2 separate regions of the Homo sapiens genome follow, and region 2 is linked to region 1. A link means that fine-mapping ties the variant in region 1 to the expression of a gene that starts in the linked region. Tissue or cell type: tibial artery. Region 1 holds a variant in brackets; the other region holds the start of a gene. All regions are shown on one strand. Distances are from middle to middle.

What was found. PIP is the estimated chance that this variant, and not a neighbour inherited with it, causes the effect. A credible set is the group of variants that fine-mapping cannot tell apart.
Region 2: it holds the start of LINC02188, and the variant in region 1 is the best candidate, but not a certain one, in a credible set for the expression of LINC02188 in tibial artery (GTEx, PIP 0.59).

Annotation. Positions count from the first base shown.
Region 1 is chr16:86,682,547-86,693,119 of GRCh38, forward strand. No RefSeq gene overlaps it. Among named protein-coding and RNA genes, the nearest start is that of LINC02189, 34 kb to the right of the region's middle. The variant C/G (reference allele first, on the strand shown) is at 5,533.
Region 2 is chr16:86,716,021-86,726,593 of GRCh38, forward strand. LINC02188 (long intergenic non-protein coding RNA 2188) reads left to right here and starts at 6,071. Exons shown (of 3, transcript NR_135183.1): 1 at 6,071-6,111. LINC02189 (long intergenic non-protein coding RNA 2189) reads right to left here and starts at 5,939. Exons shown (of 2, transcript NR_135181.1): 1 at 5,745-5,939; 2 at 4,664-4,983.

The sequences.
Region 1 (10,573 bases):
TATGACCACAGGAGCACCTGGAAAGGACCAAACCCAGCAACAGTTGAATTTGGACTTTTAGCCTCCAGAACCATGAGAAAGTAAGACTCTGCTGGACTGTGGCACGCACCCGGAACACCCATCCAGCCGCCCTGAAGGATGCAGGCCTCTCCGCCTTTGGTTCTCCTGTGCCTCTTCAGGTATGAGGGGTTCCAGCACCAGGCTGGCCCTGGCAGCCGGGAGCCAGGTCAGTGCCTTCCAAACATCCCTGCCCTCCACCACATGCAGGGGCCTTCCCAAAGGGAGAGGCTGCATTGCTCAAGTCTCCAGCAGGTCCTGGGCACGTGTATGTCCCTTCCTCCTACCCATGCTCATCCCAGGAGAGCCATGGCTCAACTATTTGACAAAAACGTATAGCACATCCGTGGGGTGCCAGGCCCCACTGCAGGGCAGAGGACAGTGAACACGACCAAGTTCCTTTCCTTGAGTGTGTTATGTGGGAGGGTGAGAGAGAGGGAACAATCAATGAATGAAGCAAAGAGAGGGAGGAGGAGGGAAGGAAGAAAAGAAGGAAGGAGGGGAGAAGGAAAAGAAGGAAGGAGGGAAACAAGGGAGGGAGAGAAGAAAGGAAGGAAGGGAGGGAGGGAGGGAAGGGAGGAAGGAAGGAAGGAGAGAGGGAGGAAAGAGGGAAGGAAGGAGGGAGGGAGAGAGGAAGGAGGGAGGGAGGGAGGAAGACCGTTCCATGCAGTGATAAGCAAAAGGAAGTGAAACCAAGTCTGTGGAAAGGTGGAGTGTGCTGGGAGGCTGTGGAGGAAGACTGTCGGGTGGGGCCGTGCACTGTGCCCACGTGGAGGCGGGCACCCCAGGGGACCCTGCGCTTGCTATTTGACTGGATTCTCACGGCAGCTCTCAGAAATCTGCACCATGACTCCGATTTGACTGATGGAGACCCAGATACCCAGAGAGATTAAGCAGCTCCGGCCAGGCCATGGCTTACATTCCAGCTCCCTCTCACTGGGTGACAACTGGCTCCCTCTGTCCCCCACGTGGTAAGAAAATCCACAGCCTTCTTTGATTTTGTTCATAAGTCTTGGGGTTGACTGGACTCAGCCAGCACTTCTCCCTCAGGGTCCTCAGGCCAGGGCAGTGAGACGTGCCAGGCTGGGGCATCTCTCGGGTTCTTCCCTCACAAGGCTGGAGCCCAGCTGGGAAGACCCAAAATGGCCGGTGTTGCAGCTGCTGGAGGTTCTCTCTCCATCTTCCTCTCCCCACCTGTCTCCACCTCTCCCTCTTCCTCCCTCTCTCCACCTCTCCATCTGCCTCTCCCTACCTGTCTCTTCCTCCCTCCACATCTCTCTTTGCCTCTCTCTTCGTCTTTCTGTGTCTCCCTCCATTTCTCTCTTGTCCCTCTCTCTATGTCTCTCTCTCCATCTCTCTGTCTCTCTCTTCATCTCTCCCTGCCTCGTTCTCTCTCTGTGTGTTTCTGTCTCTCCCTCCACATCTCTCTGTTTCTCTCTCCATCTTTCTGTGTCTCCCTCCATTTCTCTCTTGTCCCTCTCTCTATCTTTCTTTGTCTCTCTCTCCATCTCTGTCTGCCTCTTTCTCTCTCTGTGTTTGTCTCTCTCTCTACATCTCTCTGTGTGTCTCTCTCCATTTCTCTTTCTCTCTCTCCATCTTTTTTTCTCTCTCCGTCCATCTTTCTTGTCCCTTTCTCTATCTCTTTTTGTCTCTCTCTCCATTTCTGTTTCTCTCTCTGTGTCTCTGTTTCTCTCTCTCTCTTTCTCTCTCTCTCTCTATATGTATATATATGTGTGTATATATATATGTGTGTATATATATGTGTATATATATGTGTGTGTGTATGTGTGTGTGTGTGTGTATATATGTGTGTGTGTGTGTGTGTGTGTGTGTGTGTGTATATATATATATATGCCATAGGGTGATTGGATGTCTATTGTGGCAGTGGGAGGCTCCCAGAGTGAGTGTCCCAAGAAACTTGGGCAGAGGTGGCCTGGCCTCTCCTAGCCCACCTGGGAGGTCACACAGCAGCATGTCTGTCATGCCCCACTCAGGATGCAGCTGCAGAGCCTCGCCCTGTACAGTGGGGTAGGGGTGGGGCTGCCCCTCTCCATGGCAGGAAGGTCACAGAAGGTGCTATGGGTTTTACATTCTCCCCAGCTCGGCCCCACCCCATATCATGCTCATCAGCCCTCCCCTTCCCACAGCTTCTCACACCCCCCACTCTCCCCGTCTCCAGCAGGGCTTCACGTCCACCTGCTTCCCTGAGAGGCAGTGAGATGCTCTTTCATGGAGCGGGCCAGCTGGCATGGCCTCAGAGGCCTCCTCACCACAACTGGGCCTGCTGGACCCCCGCCCCCTGGGCCGGTCCTCCCCAGCTATGAGAATACAACTGCACACCCAGGAAGGCCAGTTTGGGCAAATTCCCGGGATCCATATTCTTCCTGAGACATGGCTGCAGAGTTGTCAAACTTCCTGAAGAAATATTTGTTATAACTAAAGTGTATTTTGGGTGTTGGAAATATAAACTTTGGTGCTTGACCAGGTGTGACCATAGACTAGTCCATAATGGGATGAAATGCACAGTCCGTGGATTTCCACCACAGGTTTATATTTTTAACATTTACAACCAATAAATGTTGGCTCCAACATCAACAGAAGAAAAGGAAGACCATAAATCCTTCCTTTCCAGTAGTAAAGGGAGTGGAATCCCAGACCATAACCCTTGCTATCATATTTTAATAGCCACTGCTAATGGAATGCTTACCACATCCAGATTCTGCACTGAGGTTTTGCATTCATCATCAAAGTGGGTCTTTCAACAACCCCATTATTATTCCCATTTTGGAGAGAAGAAAACTGAGGCTTAGAGATTGTTAGTCACTTGCTCCAGGTCACATGTTAGCAAAAACCAGAGCCGGCTCAAGAATATCCCTGTCACTAAATGGACATCCCATATTATCACATCTCTGTCACTGAAGCTTTTCTGTAAGGGGCAGAATATTTCAAAAGCTACACATCCGTTTTCTCTGCAGAATGTGATCAGAATGCTGCACCTTCGAAAAAATTATTTGTGACATGAAACTGTGGTACTTGGCTGAGAGTTTTGAGAAAAACAAGAGTTGGTAGGTGGATTTATTTTGAAGGTTAGCCTTCGACAAGGTTCAAGTGAGCTAGTTCTCTTAGAGAATTCCTTAGACAAGAGGAAAGGAGGAAGAGCGAGTGTCCTTTGTTTCCAGGGAGATTCTGACCAAGAACACACTAGACAAAACCAATGGGCCAGGTGTAGTGGCTCACTCCTGTAATCCCAGCACTTTGGGAGGCTGAGGCAGGCGGATCGCTTGAGGTCAGGAGTTTGAGACCAGCCTGGCCAACGTGGTGAAAGCCTGTCTCTACTAAAAATACAAAAACAAACAAACAAACAAAATAGCCGGGCGTGGTGGCAGGCACCTGTAATTCCAGCTACTTGGGAGGCTGGGGAAGGAGAATCGCTTGAACCGGGGAAGCAGAGATTGCAGTGAGCTAAGGTCGCACCATTGCACTCCAGCCTAGGCAACAGAGTGAGACTCCCTCTCAAAAAACAAAACAAAAACAAACAAACAAACAAAAAAACAATGAACCCAAAAGTTGCTTCTTTGAGAAGATCAATACAATGGATAAACATCTAACCAGGTTGATCAGGAAAGGGGAGAAAAGGCACAAATTACCAATTATTAGGGAAGAGTTTTTTTTTCTTTTCTTTTCTTTTTTTTTTTAACGGAGTCTCGCTCCATCGCCAGGGTGGAGTGCAGTGGCGTGATCTCGACTCACTGCAACCTCCGCCTCCCAGGTTCAAGCGATTCTCTGACCTCAGCCTCCCAAGTAGCTGGGACTAAAGGCACATGCCACCATGCCCAGCTAATTTTTTGTATTTTTAGTAGACACAGGGTTTCACCATGTTGGCCAGGATGGTCTCGATCTCCTGACCTTGTGATCCGCCCGCCTCGGCCTCCCTAAGTGCTGGGATTACAGGCATGAGCCACCAAGCCTGGCCAGGGATGAGATTCTTTTTTTTTTTTTTTTTTTTTTTTTGAGACGGAGTCTCGCTCTGTCGCCCAGGCTGGAGTGCAGTGGCGGGATCTCGGCTCACTGCAAGCTCCGCCTCCCGGGTTCATGCCATTCTCCTGCCTCAGCCTCCCAAGTAGCTGGGACTACAGGCGCCCGCCACTACGCCCGGCTAATTTTTTGTATTTTTAGTAGAGACGGGGTTTCACCGTTTTAGCCGGGATGGTCTCGATCTCCTGACCTCGTGATCCGCCCGCCTCGGCCTCCCAAAGTGCTGGGATTACAGGCGTGAGCCACCGCGCCCGGCCCGAGATTCTTGACATCACTGCAGATCTTACAGACAACTTGGGGAAAGTGGACAAATTGCTTGAAAGGCACAAACTACTAAGTTAACTCATGAAAAAATGGATAACCTGAACAGTCCTATCTATGAAAGTAACTATATTTGTAGTTAGAAACCTTCTCACCAAGAACACTCCAGGTCCATATGGCTTCACTGATGAATTCTACCCAGGCTTTAAGGAGACTAACGATTCCAAGTTTACATAAACTTTTCCAGAAAACCAAAAAGGGGAGAGCACTTTCTCATTCATTTAATGAGGTCAGCATTATCCTAATACCAAAGTCAGACAAAGCAATTACAAGACAAGAAAACCACAGGGCCATATTCCTCATGAACAAAGAAGCAACAATTCTAAATAAAATTTTAGGAAATCAAACCCAACAAAGGATAATGCATCACATGTAAGTGAGTCCCAAGAATGCAAGATTAGTTTATTTGAAAATCAATCAATGTAATTCATCATCGTGACAAACTAAACAAGAAAATCATGGCTGGGTGCGGTGGCTCATGCCTGAATCCCAGCACTTTGGGAGGCCGAGGCAGGCGGATCACTTGAGGTCAGGAGTTTGAGACCAGCCTGGCCAACATGGTGAAACCCTGTCTCTACTAAAAATACAAAAATTAGCTGGGCGTGGTGGCACATGCCTGTAATCCCAGCTACTTGGGAGGCTGAGCAGAAGAATCACTTGAACTAGGGAGGCGGAGGTTGCAGTGAACCGAGATTGTTCCACTGCACTCCAGCCTGGGCGACAGAGTGACACTCCATGAAAGAAAAAAGAAAGAAAGAAAAGAAAAGAAAAGAAAAGAAAAAAGAAAAGAGAGAAAAAAGAAAATCATGATAATCTAATAGTGGCAGGAAAAGCATCTGACAAAACCCAACATTCATTCCTAATTTAAAAAAGTCTGAGAAAACAAGGAATAGAAGGACATCCCCCTCATTTTGAAAAACACAGTCACAACTCACCCAGTATGAAATAGATAATTTCAATAGTCCTATAAGTACTTTAAAAATTAAATTAATAATTTTTAAATTACCACAAAAGAAATCTTGTTCATATGGCTTTACTGGAGAATTCTACCAAATGTTTAAACAAGAATTAACACCAATTTTATACAGTCTCTTCTGAGAAATACATGAGATGGGGATA[C/G]TTTGCAGTTCATTCTGTGAAGCTAGTATTACACTAATACAGAAACCAGACAAAGGCAATAAAATTTTAGTCTAATATTCCCCGTGAATGTAGAGGCAAACATTCTTGAGTATATATCGGCAAACAGAATTCAGTAATATATAAGAAGAATTATACACCATAACCAAGTAGGATTAATTCCAAGGATGCAGGCATGTTTCAATACTCAAAAATTATGAGTATTGAACATAATCCACCCTACTGACAAGTTAAAGAAGAAAAATCACATATTCACATTAATCAATGCAAAAAACAGCATTGATAAAATTCAACATCCGTTTGTGATTTTAAAAAAAGCTCAGAAAAATAGAAATAGGGGAGAAACTTCCTGACTTGACAAAATGCAACTACAAAAAGCTACAGATAACATTATACTTAGTTGTGGAAGACTAAATGTTTTCCCCCTAAGATTGAGAACACAGCAAGAATGTCCACTCTCCCTACTCTTATTCAGTGTAGTGCTATAGGTTCTAGCCAGAATAATAAACACCAAAATTAAAAATACAATTCCACTTATAATTGCTCAAACGATGTAGTAAACGTAACAAAACACATACCTTGTATGCTGAAAAATATACAATGTTGATGAAGGAAATCAAAGAAGGTCTTAATAAATGGAGTGATATACTGCATTCAGGGATTGAAAGACTCAACATAGTAAAGAGGTCAATTCTCTTCAAATTGATATACAAGTTTAATGCAATTAATATCAAAATAACGGCAGAATTTTTTAACAGATGGACAGGGTTATTCTAAAATTTATTTGAAAATGGAAAGAAACTAGGTAAGTTCAAATAATTTTGAAAAAAAGAAGAATAAAGTGAGAAGAATCAGTCTCCCCAATGTCAAGGGTGACTACATAGCTACAGTAATCAAGAAGGCAGTGATAATGGTGGAAGGATAGACATATGTCAGTGGAACAGAATAGAGACTCAGAAATAGAACCACACCAATATGCCCAACTGATTTTTAACAAAGATGCAATTCAATGGAGAAAAAAAGAGACTTTTCAACAAACAGTGCCAGAGAATAGCACATAGGCAATAAAATCAACATCTATGTAAGGTTCACATCTTATACAAAAATCAATTCAAAATGTATAATGAACTTAAATGTAAAATACAAAACTATGAAACTTTCGGGAAAAATGTCTTAGGAATATAGGCCTAGGCAAAAAGGTCTTAAGACTTAACACCAATAGCACAATCCACAAAAGAAAAAGATTGATAAATTCAACTGCATCAGAATTAAAAACTTTTGCTCTTGAAAGATACTTTTCTAAGGATAAAAAGAAGATCCACAGAGTGAGAGAAAATATTTGCAAACAACATATCTGAAAAAGGACTAGTATCCAGAATATATAAAGAACTGTCAAGACTCAGTTAAACCAAACGATCCAATTAGGCAAAAGACATGACGAAACATTTCACTGAAGAGATTACACCGATGGTAAATAAGCACATGAAAAAACACTGAACGTCACCAGCCTTCACAGAATTGAAGAGAGTTAGGGCCTTGCTCCAGATTAGGCTTTGGCTCAAGGCAATGTTGTAGTTAGTTTGATCTTTTATTCAGACCGTAAACCTTTCACCATATCAGCAGTAAGGCTATTTCACTTTTTTATCATTCATGTGTTCACTGGAGTAGCACTTTTAATTTCCTTCAAAAGCTTTTACTTTGCATGCACAACTTGACCAACTGTTTGGTGCAAGAGGCCTAGTTTCAGCGTACCTTGGCTTCTGACATGGCTTCCTCACTAAGCTTAATCGTTTCAGCTCTCGGTGTAAAGTGAGACCTGTGACTCTTCCTTTCACTCAAACACTTACAGGCCACTGTAGGATGATTCCTTGACCTAATTTCAATATTATTATGTTGCAGTGAATAGAGAGGCCCAAGGATAGGGAGAGAGATGGGGGAAGAGCCAGTGATACAGTTAGAACACACAAGCCATTTATTGATTAAGTTCACTGTCTTATAGGGGCATGGTTCATGGTGCCCCAGAACAATTACAATAGTGACGAAGCTCACCGATCGCAGATCACCATAACAGAAGTAATCATAATGAAACGGTTTGAAATACTGTGAGAATTACTCAAATGTGACAGAGCCATGACATAAGCACGTACTGTTGGGAAAATGGCGCTGATAGACTTGCTCCATGCAAGGTCTCCACAAACCCTCAGTTTGTAAGAAACACAGACAGTAAAGCACTTAAATGCATAATAAAACAAGGGAGGCCTGCACACTCCAGTAAAGCTCTTTATTTTTATTTATTTATTTATTTAATTAATTTATTTATTTATTATTTATTTATTTATTTATTTATTTTAAGATGGAGTCTCGCTCTCTTGCCCAGGCTGGAGTGCAGTGACGCGATCTCGACTCACTGCAAGCTCCACCTCCTGGATTCATGCCATTCTCCTGCCTCAGCCTCCCTAGTAGCTGGGACTACAGGCGCCCGCCACTGCGCCAGGCTAATTTTTTGTATTTTTAGTAGACACAGGGTTTCACTGTGTTAGCCAGGATGGTCTCAATCTCCTGACCTCGTGATCCGCCCACCTCGGCCTCCCAAAGGAGTAAAGCTCTTTAAAAAAGAAAGAGTCTGGACAAGTAAATGTTGCCCTTTTAGAGTTTTTTGCTTTTCTAACAGAAAGAGACGTTAGAGACCGTCTAACCTCGTTGTTTTCCAACTGTGTTTCTTGGAACCTGAGGTGGACTATGATTTGCAAAGATGTCCGCAATCATACCCTGATGCCTGTAGGCTCTCCCACAACATGGTCTTGCCTCACCTGTTACTGAGAGGGAGATCTGTGTTCCCTGTGGTTGAATTTGGTGGCCCTTTGACCATCGATAGAATGTGGTGAAAGTAAGGCTGTGTGACTCCTGTGACTAGGTCACATGGGCCACATGTCTTCCACCTGGTTCTCTGGAAACTCTTGCTCTGGAGGAAGCCAGCCACCAAGTAAGAAATCTGACAACCCTGAGACCGCCATGCTGGAGAGGCCACATGTGGATGCATTGGCTGACAGCCCCTGCATCAACACCAGCCACGTGAGCAAGACACCTTGGACACACATGCGGCCTGTCAAGCCTCCAGCTGCCTGCAGTCCAAGCCAACACCTGGCTGCACTCTCTTGAGAGACTCCAAGTGATGATTGCCCAGTCAATCCCTCTCTAAATCCCAGCCCACCAAATCGTAAACAAAGTAAAAGGGCAATCGTTTGATAGCACTGATTTCTGGGGTAATTGGTTACGTAGCAATAGTAACCAAACTAGACCATGCCAGGGATCCCTGGAAGGCAGGGAGAGGGCAGGGTGAGAATCTTCATGGTGGGGGTTCTGGTAGCCTCCCTCCCTCCCTCCCTACTTGCTCAGGTGAGAGGAATTCGATTTGTTGGAGGAAAGTTCCCCTGGTCTCACCTAGCCCCTTCATTTTGGAGATCAGGATACAGAGGCAAAGCAGGGAAGTAATGAGCTGAGGTTTACAAGGCTAGGACGTGAACATGCCATTTCTCACCCTAGAATCTGGCAACTCCAAGTCCAGGGCTCCAATCTGAACATATCAGCTGGCCATTGGGAAGTTCCCAAGTCAATTCTGGGCTTTCTTAGTGCTCCCACTGTAATCTCAATAACACAGATGTTTTTTCCAATTCAAGTTGTGAATCTTAAAGCAAATCTGTCAATTAGAAGAGAGTCATCAGGTTCTGTAGTTAAGGTCTTCCAGTGCTAATTCAAGCAATCTGCTTTCCATCTAGCAGAAGCTACACCCCACATGTGTGTCCTGTGTGATTGTAACTTTGTTTTTAAAGCACTACCTGGGGAAGCATTTCTTATAAAAATTGTCGAAACAACGTAACACTCTCACCCACATGTATTTCCTTTCAGTTTCAACCCATCCAGTCCTGGCAACTCCTATAAGCATCTGCTGTGTTACTTTTTTCCTTCTTCTCCTTTAATGCCAGGGACCTCGTGCTGGGGACCTCGGTAGACCAGGAAGCCACAGTTGGGAATGCATTCAGAGACCATTAGTTCAGGAAGCACAGTGAAATCCAAAGAAACCATGAACCAGTGAGTTGGGAAACACTCTATGAAAGGCCTTTTCAGGCAGTTTCTTTCAGGAGGAGTTTGTTTTTGGATTAAAGGAGTTTATTCAGGTATTCACAAATACCCAGGCTCTCGGCAGCAGCTGGAACGTGGAAAGCCCTCAGTCATAATCAATGGCTGTAGAGCAGACTGGCATGTTCTGCTTGAGCAACACAAGGATGAAAGGGGCATAATTAGGGGACACGCCTTCAGAGGAGATGAAAGGCCCAAGACATCCTCAAAAACGGAGGCAAAATATACCCTGAAGTCACTAGTTTCTTTATTTTGGAAGTAGCAGTTCCAATAAAAGCCTAGGTGTCAAAGGCATTGGGATGCAGCCAAGCCTTGGACGCGGTTGCTTTCTTTCTTTCTCGCCCCTGCCGCTCTTTTCTCGCTTGGGGAAGAAAACTGATGGAAATGTCACTCCTGTATTTCCTGCACTCCTAGCAAATGGTGTAAATGCCTCGCTCCTTAACCGGGGACTCCAGGCTGAGCTGACACTTTGATGGGCTTCCAGGCGGGGTGCATGAGAGGACCACAGGGGTTAATGGAGTAGGTCGGATTTGAAATCTTCCCCCACATCAGATTCTTCAGGGTTTTCTCAGTGGCTCATTTGTATTTTGGAGTCAGCTGGTTACAAAACAGCGCCCTTCCTCTGCTTAGAGACCTGAGAAAGCTTAGGACACTTCACAGTCCTCTTGCAAGCTCCCTTGCCTTGGAAAATTCTTATTTCCTCATTCAATTCAATACAGAAGATGAGCTGGTTTTCATGAACAAGGGGTTTTGTGCTGAGGGCATTGAACAATCTATCCCACCCACCGTTCATTTTCAGATGGGAAGGGGAAGCCCGGCTGAGACTGGGTGACTTGCTCTGAGTGGTAGAACTAGAGCCAAAGAGAAATTTGGGAGAAGTTTTGAC
Region 2 (10,573 bases), 33 kb after region 1:
GGGTTCCTGTCACCCTTGCCACATCTGGAGTCCTGTCTCCAGCCACTGGGAATCTTGAATGGTCACATGGGACACCACTGCTAGTCACATCAATGTCTTTAACATTAATAATGTGAGTTCACAGCTAAGGGCCTGTACCAGAGACCAAAGGCTGATGGCAGCTTCTGGGCCTCATGCTTGCAGGTGGGGGACAGTAAACCTCAGAACAGGTGAAAACCCAGGTAGGCACCCATAGCTGGGGCCAGACTCACCAAGGCTGACCTGGGGACAGGCTCCCAGAGGTTGAGAGCCCTCATGTCATCCACACATAGCAGACATTCCTGACTTACATTAAAAATAGGCTCTCTCCACACCCCCCACATGCACATCTCCCTTCTTTTTGGGGTTAAAAGGATCCAGCGCTTTTATTCAAAGGGCGTCCTATGATTCAGATTTTGTAGAATTCAGAATTCTCAGATTTGAGAGCTTTGAAGACTTCAGAAGGCCATCCAGTTCAGACTGATCCCTCCTTCTATCCAAACAGATCATTAGACTGATGGGAAGATCAGGGAAGACCCTCCAGGCAGTTACTAGAGCTCTTCCTTTAAGCTTCCTTAGCAGTAAACTCAGGCAAACTAATAAGATCCACCTCCGAAGGTCGTCGTGAGGATTAAACCAGATATGCATGTAATGTTCTTAGCAGTATGCCAGACACTCTGCAAATATTCAATAAATGGCAGCATTGTGATTGTCTTGACCATCTTCAACATACAGTGTTTTCTTTGTTTCCACACCACCCTTTTGAGTCCGTCAAGCCTGCAGTTGGCTCACAAGTGGAAGCTTCCTTCCCGGGCTCTGTTACAACATAGGAGGCAGAGCTTAAAGCTCCTTCTAGACTGGCAGGAACCAGCTCTCACCTCCGACAGGGGTGAGGCCAGAGGCGTGGGAAAGCCAGATGGGGTGGCGGATGCCACGGTGCCATGGCCTCCTTCAACCCTCAGGTGTGCAAGGAGGCAGGTGACCTGGGATGTTCTGCAAAACAGGTAGGTTTTCATGCCATTGATTTGATTCTCCTGAAACTTAGCCAGTGAATTTTTAAAAAGGGATAAGCCTCAAAGACAATGTAAACAAAAAATATGTCCTGGGCTTTACATCGGTAAAATGGTCTTTTCCTGCCTCGTGTTTTAAATACAGGCTCAAAACAGCAGGATGAGGAAGGGTGACTGTTAACAGGTACACAGATTCTTTCTGAATTGATAAAAATGTTCCAAAATGGACTGTGTTGAGGGTTGTCCAGTTCTGTGAATATACTAAAACCCACTGAATTGTCCACTTTAAATGGGTGAATTGTGTGGTACTTGAGTTATATCTCGATAAAGCTTCTTTTAAAAGTAGATTTTAAAAAGTATTTCATTATTTTTAGACACTTTCCCCAAACACGTATTACCAACACTGGGAGAGACGTAGAGAAACAGACTGTTTTCAAACCATTTTTGAGTTATTTGAGTTTCAGGTGTGTTTTGTGGTTTTCCTCATTGGCAAAAGTTTACTGTGAGTGAATCGAAGCTTCTTGTCGTGTCGAGGGGACCATACTGAGCCTTGGAGGCAACTAAGCAAAAAGAAGGAAGATGGCTCAAAATAAGGGCCTAAGTTATTCCCTGAGTGCATTCAAAGGAGAAAGATACTAAGGGAGGTCGAGCTAAGCCAGGAGGGCTTCATGGAGGAGGGAACTGAGCTGGAACCTCCAGATTTAATAAAAGTAACAAAAAGTTCTAAGAAATAATAGCAGCGGCCCTCCTTCACCAGGCACTGGCCCTTCCCCAGGCCCCCTGCCTCCTGCACTTCACAGTTCTCCGGGAGACACAAGTGCCATTTGAGGAGGGGGATGTCGCCGCCTGCCTTGCCTGGGCGATCCCCTGCCAGAAGCCAGAGAGCAGGGGCCACTGAGAGCCCACGTGGGCAGCTCCCAGGGTACTGAGGAAGAAGAGAGGCAGTGATGAGGAGATCCAAGCCTGAGACATCCAGCACCTCATGGGGGACTTAGGGTGGGCTGGAGAATAACAGGCGCAAAGGCGTGGGAGGGACAGAGGGGTTTCATCAAAGACAGCAGGCCCTGGCCTGAGAGGTGGGGCTGACTGAGGATGGCCACGAGGTACCCAGCTGTCCTAAGCTCGTGAATGATAGAGGGGTAGGTGGTGTCACCTTTCTCATTAGAATGTGCTGGGCTGTTGTGTAAGTTCTCTTCATTCACTCACTCTAGGTCCTCACTACCCAAGGCGTGGTCCTCAGACATCACCCGGGAGCTGGTTATAAATGGAGAGTCTCAGGCCCCGCCCTGGAGGCCCTGGTTCAGAACCTGCGTTTCAGCAAGAGCTCGAGTGATTCAGGCAGGTCACTGCACTGCTGTAAGTCACCCCCCTGGTTTGGGGATGTGGGAGTGGCTGCTGGCCAGGAACAATCAGTTTCAGGTTTAAACGTGGGATTTTCCACCCTTGCGGCAGGGTAACATTGTATCAAGAACAGGAAATACTGGCTGCTTCTCGCCTTCCTTCGTCCCAGGACGAATGCCCCTCATCAATTGCTGCCTGCTTCCCTGCAGACCCCGGGGATGGCCCCATTATGCCTCTCAACACAAGATGCCTGTGCCTACATTGTGTCCATTTGAGCTGGCAGATGTATATATAAGATTGCTCACTTATAACTTTTGGCAGAAATATAAAACTCAGGGATTATCAGAAAACAAATCCTATAACTGTCTTACATACAATCACTTATACCCATGCAATGCCACGGCCAGTAAGGAAAGAGGGAACTCAGCGTGGAGGTCAGGGCACAGGGAAATGACACGACACCTTTGAAGGGTAAGCCCCGAAAGGTCAGTCTGTGTGCTGGGGGTCCCGTGGACACATCTGTCCCTGGGCATCCCTCCAAAGATGAAGGCTGAATATGTCCCTTGAGTTTGGCGTCGAAGGATGGGCCCAAGAGGCCAGAGGACACGCAGCACAGGGAGACAGAAAGTCCTTCCAGACAGAGAACAAAGCCACCAGCTCTTGTGCAGAAAGGTGAACTGCGACCTCAGTAGGCGGTGCTCATCTGTCACAGGTGTTTGTTTGAGTTTGACAATGTGGGGAAAACAGTAGTTCTGTTCTTTCTTTGGTTCCCAAGCATATCTGAACAATTATTCTTATTTTTTAAGCATGTAAGAGCTAAGTTTCACACAGAAATGACAATACCGATAAAGCCATGTGACTTTGACGATTGTGGAAATGGGTCAGTGGGTGAATTTAAGTTCTTCTTCCTTATTTAAAACACTACACTTGAGTTGGATGCTTCAGTCCCCTAGTGTACTTTGTTGAGAGAGGCAAAGATCCAGTTCTGAATCTGTGCTCGGATGGCTCTGGGCAAATTGGAGGACGCGATTGAAAGATGCAGTTGTTCCAATTCATGGTGGCTCGATTGAACAATGACGGACCTGGACCTGGACCGTGCAGGTACCTACAGGCCCTGTGAGTGGGCCTTGGGAAAATGGAACAAAGCAATCGCATGCTGCCTCTGATCGGATTGCTCTCAGTGCCAAGTGCAGTATAGACAGAAGCTAGCAGTGGGTGCAGGGCAGCGTGGCGTGCTGGGAAGGAGCTACCATGCCGTCTTGAGATGTTGCTGGCAGATCCTCAGTAGCTTCAGACCCTGCTGGCTTGAGATGATGCCTGCAAAGCCTCAGTACCTTCAGACCCTGGCACTGACACACCGGAGAGTCACTGGGTGGGGGGCGGGCTCTGCGGCTCCCCATGGTTCGGGTTTTCCTGGCTCAAATGGAGATCACGGTTGTGTTTCAGGTAGGGCCTGGCACTGAAAATGCTTGGTATGGGTGGAGGTTGTTCTTTTTACCCACACATGATCTTTAAGATTGTGCTAGCGCATCTCACAAGACATTTGCTAAAACTGAATTGTATAACTTGCTTTGTGTTCAATGAGGAGGGAGCAGCCACACTGGAGAAAGATTTCAGCCATGACTACTGTGTATCACACATGAAATCCTGGCTTAAGGCTGTAGGACTCCATTACGCTGTTCCATGCACACACTACGTCTTTGCAGGTATCATGTCATTAGGTGTGATAACAGCTCAGCATTTTTACATTCTCCAAGCTATCATCATGTGCAAGGCATATTAGCTCCTCCTAGCCCAAAGCCAATAGAAATGTCAGTATGGCCCAAGGGGTGCCTGAGAATTTAAACCATGACACTTGAAGCAGGTCTAGGAGAACCACCCTGGAGGAATGGGCTGCAGGTGCAGCCTCTCCTGGATTTACAGGCTCATTCCCCAGTGGGCATCATCGTGGCTCCCACCTGGGTTCATCTCTTGAATCAGTTCTCTCTTCTGCATGGGTATCTGGGTATCCCTTGCAGAGTGCACACCTTTTTTATTTTTTGACATGATTTCAGATGTGCAGAAGAGGAGCACAAAAATCTCAAGATACCCTTCACCCAGAGTCCCCAAAATTAATATTTACCATATTTGTTGCATCTCTCTCTCTCTCTCTCTCTCACACACACACACACACACACACAGAGAGGAAGTTGCAGACAAGATGTGCCTTTACTATTAAATACTGCTGTGTGCATTTCCTGAAAACAAAGGGATTCTCTTCTGTAACCACAATGCAATTAACAAAACCAAGGATGTGGCATTGACACAATTCTATTAGCTACAGACCTCATTCACGTTTTTTCAATTGTCCTAAGACTGTTTGAGCCAAAAGAATATCCAAGATCATGCCTGGCATTCTGTTGTCGCATCTCTTTAGTCTCCATTAAGCAGAAAATCTTGAGTCTTTGTCTTTCATGACATTGATGTTTATTTTGTAGAATGCGTCACCATTTCAGGTTGTCCGAATTGTCCTTGTGGTCAGATTCACGTCAAGACTTGGGGCAACAACACCAGGATGTAATGTCCTCATCACATATATTGATCACGGGGCCTGTGGTGTTGATTTAGCCCGCTGCTGGTGGTAATACTTGGGTTATAGTTTTTGTACTGTAAAGTCACTATTTCACCTTATGTAGTAAGTTACAAGCATCTTACTAGGAGATCTTTAGTTAATTTTCCAAAGATTTAACGTGGAGCGAGGAACTCAATCAATGTTGAGCTCCTCTGAGAATCTAGCCCAGCAAATCCCAGTAGAGTGCAGACCCGGGCTGTGGGGAAGGCACAGGAGAAAACCTTTGAGGGGCCTTCAGGCCGGAAGGAACTTTAGCTACTCACCAGGTCTGCCCCCTTTTTGGCAGAAAGAGAAACTGGGATCTACAGGAGGGGCGTGCCTAGGGTACAAGGCAGAGAAGGGCACAGATGGCCAACTTCACCCTCTTGTGCCCTGGGATGATATAGGTTCCTCACATCACAGTAAGAGAGGACTTGCACCCTTCTGCTCACCAAGGGAACAAATGCAAACTAGAGAACTTGTGGGCATCTTAGACAGGGCTTTCATCTTTTTCTTTTCCTCACCCTCCTGATCATCCTCTGGTTCCTATTATTAAGAAAAAAAAAAAACCTGTCTGTCTATCCAACTGTCTTGCTATCTCTATCTGTGTATCCTTCTCCATAGCCAACCCTTTTTTATTTCTACTATGTATATATTTCTATACATCTGCGTCTATATCCACATTGCAATCTCTCTCTTTCTCTTGGTTTTCTTACCTTTCAATGTTAATTGCTAAATGGGAGTAGAGTGAACAACAATAAGAGCAAAAATATAATTTCCTTTACCTTTGCAATAACATTCATAAGGTATTACTGGGAAAACATTAAAAATGGGACCCTTGTTTGAAAGTAGCAGGCAGGAAACACCAAGAAGCTAGAGAAATTCTCTTCAGAAGCCCCCTCTGGCCCACTGAGGGTCACCTTGCTAGAGGTCATCCCTGTCCCTACAGTGGCATCTTGTATAGTGTAGGGCACTGGCTGGGTGCCAATCCCGAGTTGAGTGTTGTCCGATGCAGACACCCTTGGCTGATGACCTCAGACTTGCCTCGGAACCCTGGCTTTATGACCCAACTGTGTGCTATGGTCCAAATGTGTGTGTCTCCCTCAAATTTGAATATTGAAATTCTCACCTACAATGTGATGCTATCAAAAGGTGAGGTCTTCGGGAGGTGAGTGGTTTGTGAGGTAGAACCCTCATGCATGGGAATAGTGCCCTTATGAAAGAGCCCCAAGCCCGGGCACGGTGGCTCACACCTGTAATCCCAGCACTTTGGGAAGCCAATGTGGGCGGATCACCTGAGGTCAGGAGTTTTAGACCAGTCTGACCAACATGATGAAACCCCATCTCTACTAAAAATCCAGAAATGAGCCGGGCATGGTGGCGGGCGCCTGTAATCCCAGCTACTTGGGAGGCGGAGGCAGGAAAATCGCTTGAACCCGGGAGGCAGAGATTGCAGTGAGTGGAGACCATGCCATTGCACTCCAACCAGGGCAATAAGACTGAAACCCCATCTCAAAAAATTAAATAAATAAAAATAAAATAATAAAAAACGCCCCAGAGAGGCCCCTTGCCCCTTCCAGCATATATGGACTCTCGAGAAGGTGCCATCTATGAGTCAGGAAGTGACCTTCACCAGACACTGAAGTGGCCAGGGCCTTGATCTTGGACACCCCAGCCTCCAGAACCGTCAGAGATAAATCTCTGTTGTGCATGGGCTGCCCAGTGGATGATATTTTGTTACAGCAGCCCAGGTAGACAAAGACACCAAGTTTTCTTGTCATGAGATCTGAATGAATAATTCGCTGTGTGTGGTTTGACACTGCAGTGGCTTTTCTGACCCTCCACCTGCCACAATCTCCTTCCTGGATTAAACTCCTTCTCCTGTACATGCCGAGATGTTTCTGTTCCCCGGTTGTGTCTTGACCAACAGTCTTCACGAAGTCTTTCTTTTCAAGCTTACTCTGTCATGATTTTGGTGTCTGGTCATGCCCGGAAATGGAATAGAAAGACCTAGGATTCTCCCTTCACCCTAAGGGAAATCCTTGCTTCGCTGAAAATGGGTGAAGCTGTGGGCTGAAAAAATATGTGTTCCTTCTTTATCTGGCTTCTCTTCACTCAGCTTCTCTGTTCAGTCCCTGCATTATTCATTTTTGGTGCACTTCCAATGATGTCTTATTTCACAATCAGCCGTAATACTGATCATAGAAACTTTTGTATGTGCTGCTTTTTGTGCAATAAATCTCTATTTCAAGCAGTACTCCAGTGACTAGCTAACAGGCTATCTGTTTCACAGCTATGTAGGATAATTGAGGCCTACTATTACTTTGAGGTTTAATTTCTGAACCTAATTGTGTGTGTGCATGCGTGCAGGTGCGTGTGTGTGTGTGTGTGTGTGTGTGTGTGTTCGGGGGAGTCTGTGCACCCATGTGTGTGAACCCAGAATCATACAGGAGACAGGTGAATTGGTTGGCGTCTTTGAGTGGTGGGCTTGAAGGCACACAGCCTTCCTGGTTGACCTTAGACCGGTAAATTCAGGCCTGTTAAATTTCAGGTAAGGTCACTGCCATTTAAGGAGATCTGTTTTGCTTGAATATTCTGACTGTCAGTCCGCAGACATAGGGAGTGTGTGAGTGTGAGTGTGTACCAAGATGAGGAGGATAATCAGGCTCCGGCTCCGTTTTTCTGACACTTTTATGGCTGCCTTTCTTCTGTGCCTGGGCTTCGTTCTCATGCTCTTTCCCTCGTTGTTGCGGGATGGTGGCAGCATCAGCAGCTGCAGAAACTCTTGTTCATTTCCTAGCTCCGAGGAGCGTCATTTCTCCAACTTGGAATAAAAGCCCATCCTCTACCTGATTGGGCCACTCAGATCAAGGGCTTAACACTAGCAACAGTTGCTAAGGCACTGCTAGAAACCGATTAGCTGAAGCCTGGGTGTCTGAACCAATCATTGCCAAGGGGGCGGGACTTGCCCCATCCCTGGAACTATGAATGTCTCAGCCCCTTGAGATCACCTGGGCGTGGAAGAAAGTTGAAAAAAGAAATCAGAATTCGCTTAGGATGTAGGAGGTAGTGTGGATGCTGGGACAGCGACCAGTGCTGTCTACTGTAATTCCCAGTTTGGTGATGAGCAGCGTGAGGCTCAGGAGGATTAAATTTGCCTAAAGTTGCAGCTGGCCAGTCAAACATTGGAAACCAGATGTATTTTGGCTCTAAAGTCTTGTGGGTTTTCTTTGAACCCACAACTACTCTCTATAGATTGGGGACGCTGTGCCAAGCAGCTTTGTAGACTACCAATTACTCAGCCAGCCTGGGAATCGCTGCAGCATTATTGACAATAGCCAAAAGGTGGAAGCAACCCACGTGTCCATCAGTGAATGAATGAAGAAAGAAAATGGTGCATCCAAGTAATGGAGGATTATTCAGCTTTAACAAGGAATGAAGGGTGGGCACCTGCTACAACATGGATGAAGCTTGGGGACATTCTGCAAAAGAGACAGTCACCAAAGACAAACACTGTGTGATTCCACTTTGATAAAGCACCTAGAGTAGGCAGAATCATAGAGACGGAAAGTAGAAGGCACCGGACGCAGCGGCTCACGCCTGTAATCCCAGCCCTTTGGGAGGCCGAGGCAGGTGGATCTCCTGTGGTCAGAAGTTTGAGACCAGCCAGGCCAACATGATGAAACCTCGTCTCTATTAAAAATACAAAAATTAGCTGGGCGTGGTGGCATGCGCCAGTCATCCCAGTTACTCAGGAGGCTGAGACAGGAGAACTGTTTGAACCCAGGAGGCAGAGGTTGCAGTGAGCCAAGATCGTGCCATTGCACTCCAGCCTGGGCAACAAGAGTAAAACTTCATCTCAAAAAAAAAAAAAAAAAAAAAAGAAAAACAAAAAGAAAAAGATAGTAGAAGGGTGATTGCCAGGGACTTATGGGGTGGAGATGGGGAGTTATAATTTAGTGGGGACAGCGTTTCAGCTTAGGAAGATGAAAAAGTTCTGGAGGTGGATGGTGGTGATGGTTGTACAATAGTATGAATACAGTCAACACCACAGAACTACACGCTTGAAAGTGGTTATTGTGGTAAATTTTGTTACGTATATTTTACTACAATATAAAAAAAAAACAATTTTTTAAAAAGTTGTGCTCCAGAGAAAGTGGGCATTTTAACTTCTGCGTGGAGGGGTTTGGCTACAAGGTTCAAAACATCTGTCATGACTCTGGAGCCTCCGAAGCCTCCTAACTTCACTGGCCAGTGATGTCCGCTGCCTCTTCCTCTCTTGAATGTCATCTGGAAAAGTGAGCGGTGATATGTGGAAACGCTTCTCAATGCTCTTCCTGACAGCAATAGTTGGCCTGACACTAGAATTCTTCTCCACTGTACACTGACCCCCGTTGTGTGTCTGTTACCACCACGTTACTCGCCTACATTTTTAGCAATGTGTGACCTTGCACGTTTCCTGCCACCCTGCGCTCCTGACATGAGTAGTCTTGCATCTCTCTCCCCAGCCAGACAGCATGCATGGGCCAGAGTCATGTGCTTGGGGAAAAGGTGGGTTGTATCGACTCCACAACCAGTCAGAGTGCAGTGGGCCCATGTTTTGTAAAACATATGTTTGGCAAATGACTCCCTGTGGGTTGCAGAAATCCAGATGGGGGAAGTTTTCTAAGTGTGATGTCAGAATGTTACATCTGCTGATCCCACGGGTGCATGGGACCAATAAGAAGACGTGAGTTGGTTTGTCCGAGAAATTGCACGGCGTGGAGATCTGGGGGGCACATTCGAATCTGGAAAACAAAGGCCATAATGTGCACAGCCCTCTTTGGGCTTGCGTATTGTTAGAGCTAGGAGAAGTCTTAACATTGCCTAAAAGAGCTCCCAATTTTATGCACGAGGAAACTGAGGCATGGGGTGGTGGGTAAGGTGAGTTGCTCAAGGCTGTCTAAGGCTGGAACTTGAACCTGGGGCTCTGTAGTCTCAGCACAGCACCCTCAGCCCCATCACGCTGGACTAAGGCAGAGATTAAGGTTCTGGGTGTAACGTCAGACTGCCTGGAGGGCTAAGGCTCTGTTCCATCTGCTGAAAAGCTGTGCCACCCTGAGCCTCAGTTTCCTCATCTGAAAGCAGGGATTACAACAGGGCTTGTAGGTAGGGGTGTGTGTGCTGGGGGTGCTAAGTGATAGTGAAGATGATGAGTGTGAACAGGTGATGGACAGCAGCATGTGCCCAACACCGTGCTCAGCATTTCATGTCCAAATTCTCACTATGCTCACTCAGCCTCCATGCAGCCCCACAACATGGGTACCACTATCTTATCCTCTCCCATTTAATAATGAGGTGGCCAAGGCTACTTATGAAAAGAAACGAGGCGGTGCCTGTTGCATACAAAGATCCCAAACCCTAAACCTCTTTTACACATAGCTGGGAAGAAATGCATTTACTTTCCCTGGCCTTGGGCCAGTGGGTTGTTTAGAAACCTTCAGGGGAGCAGGAAGATGCAGCCCACAGCACGGAGATGGCCTTCCCGGGTCCTTGAGAAACAGGTATTTCATGCTGTGTTGGCACACAAGAGCCGGCCAACAATCCCTGTGCTTGTCTGCCTGGACTGTTGGGT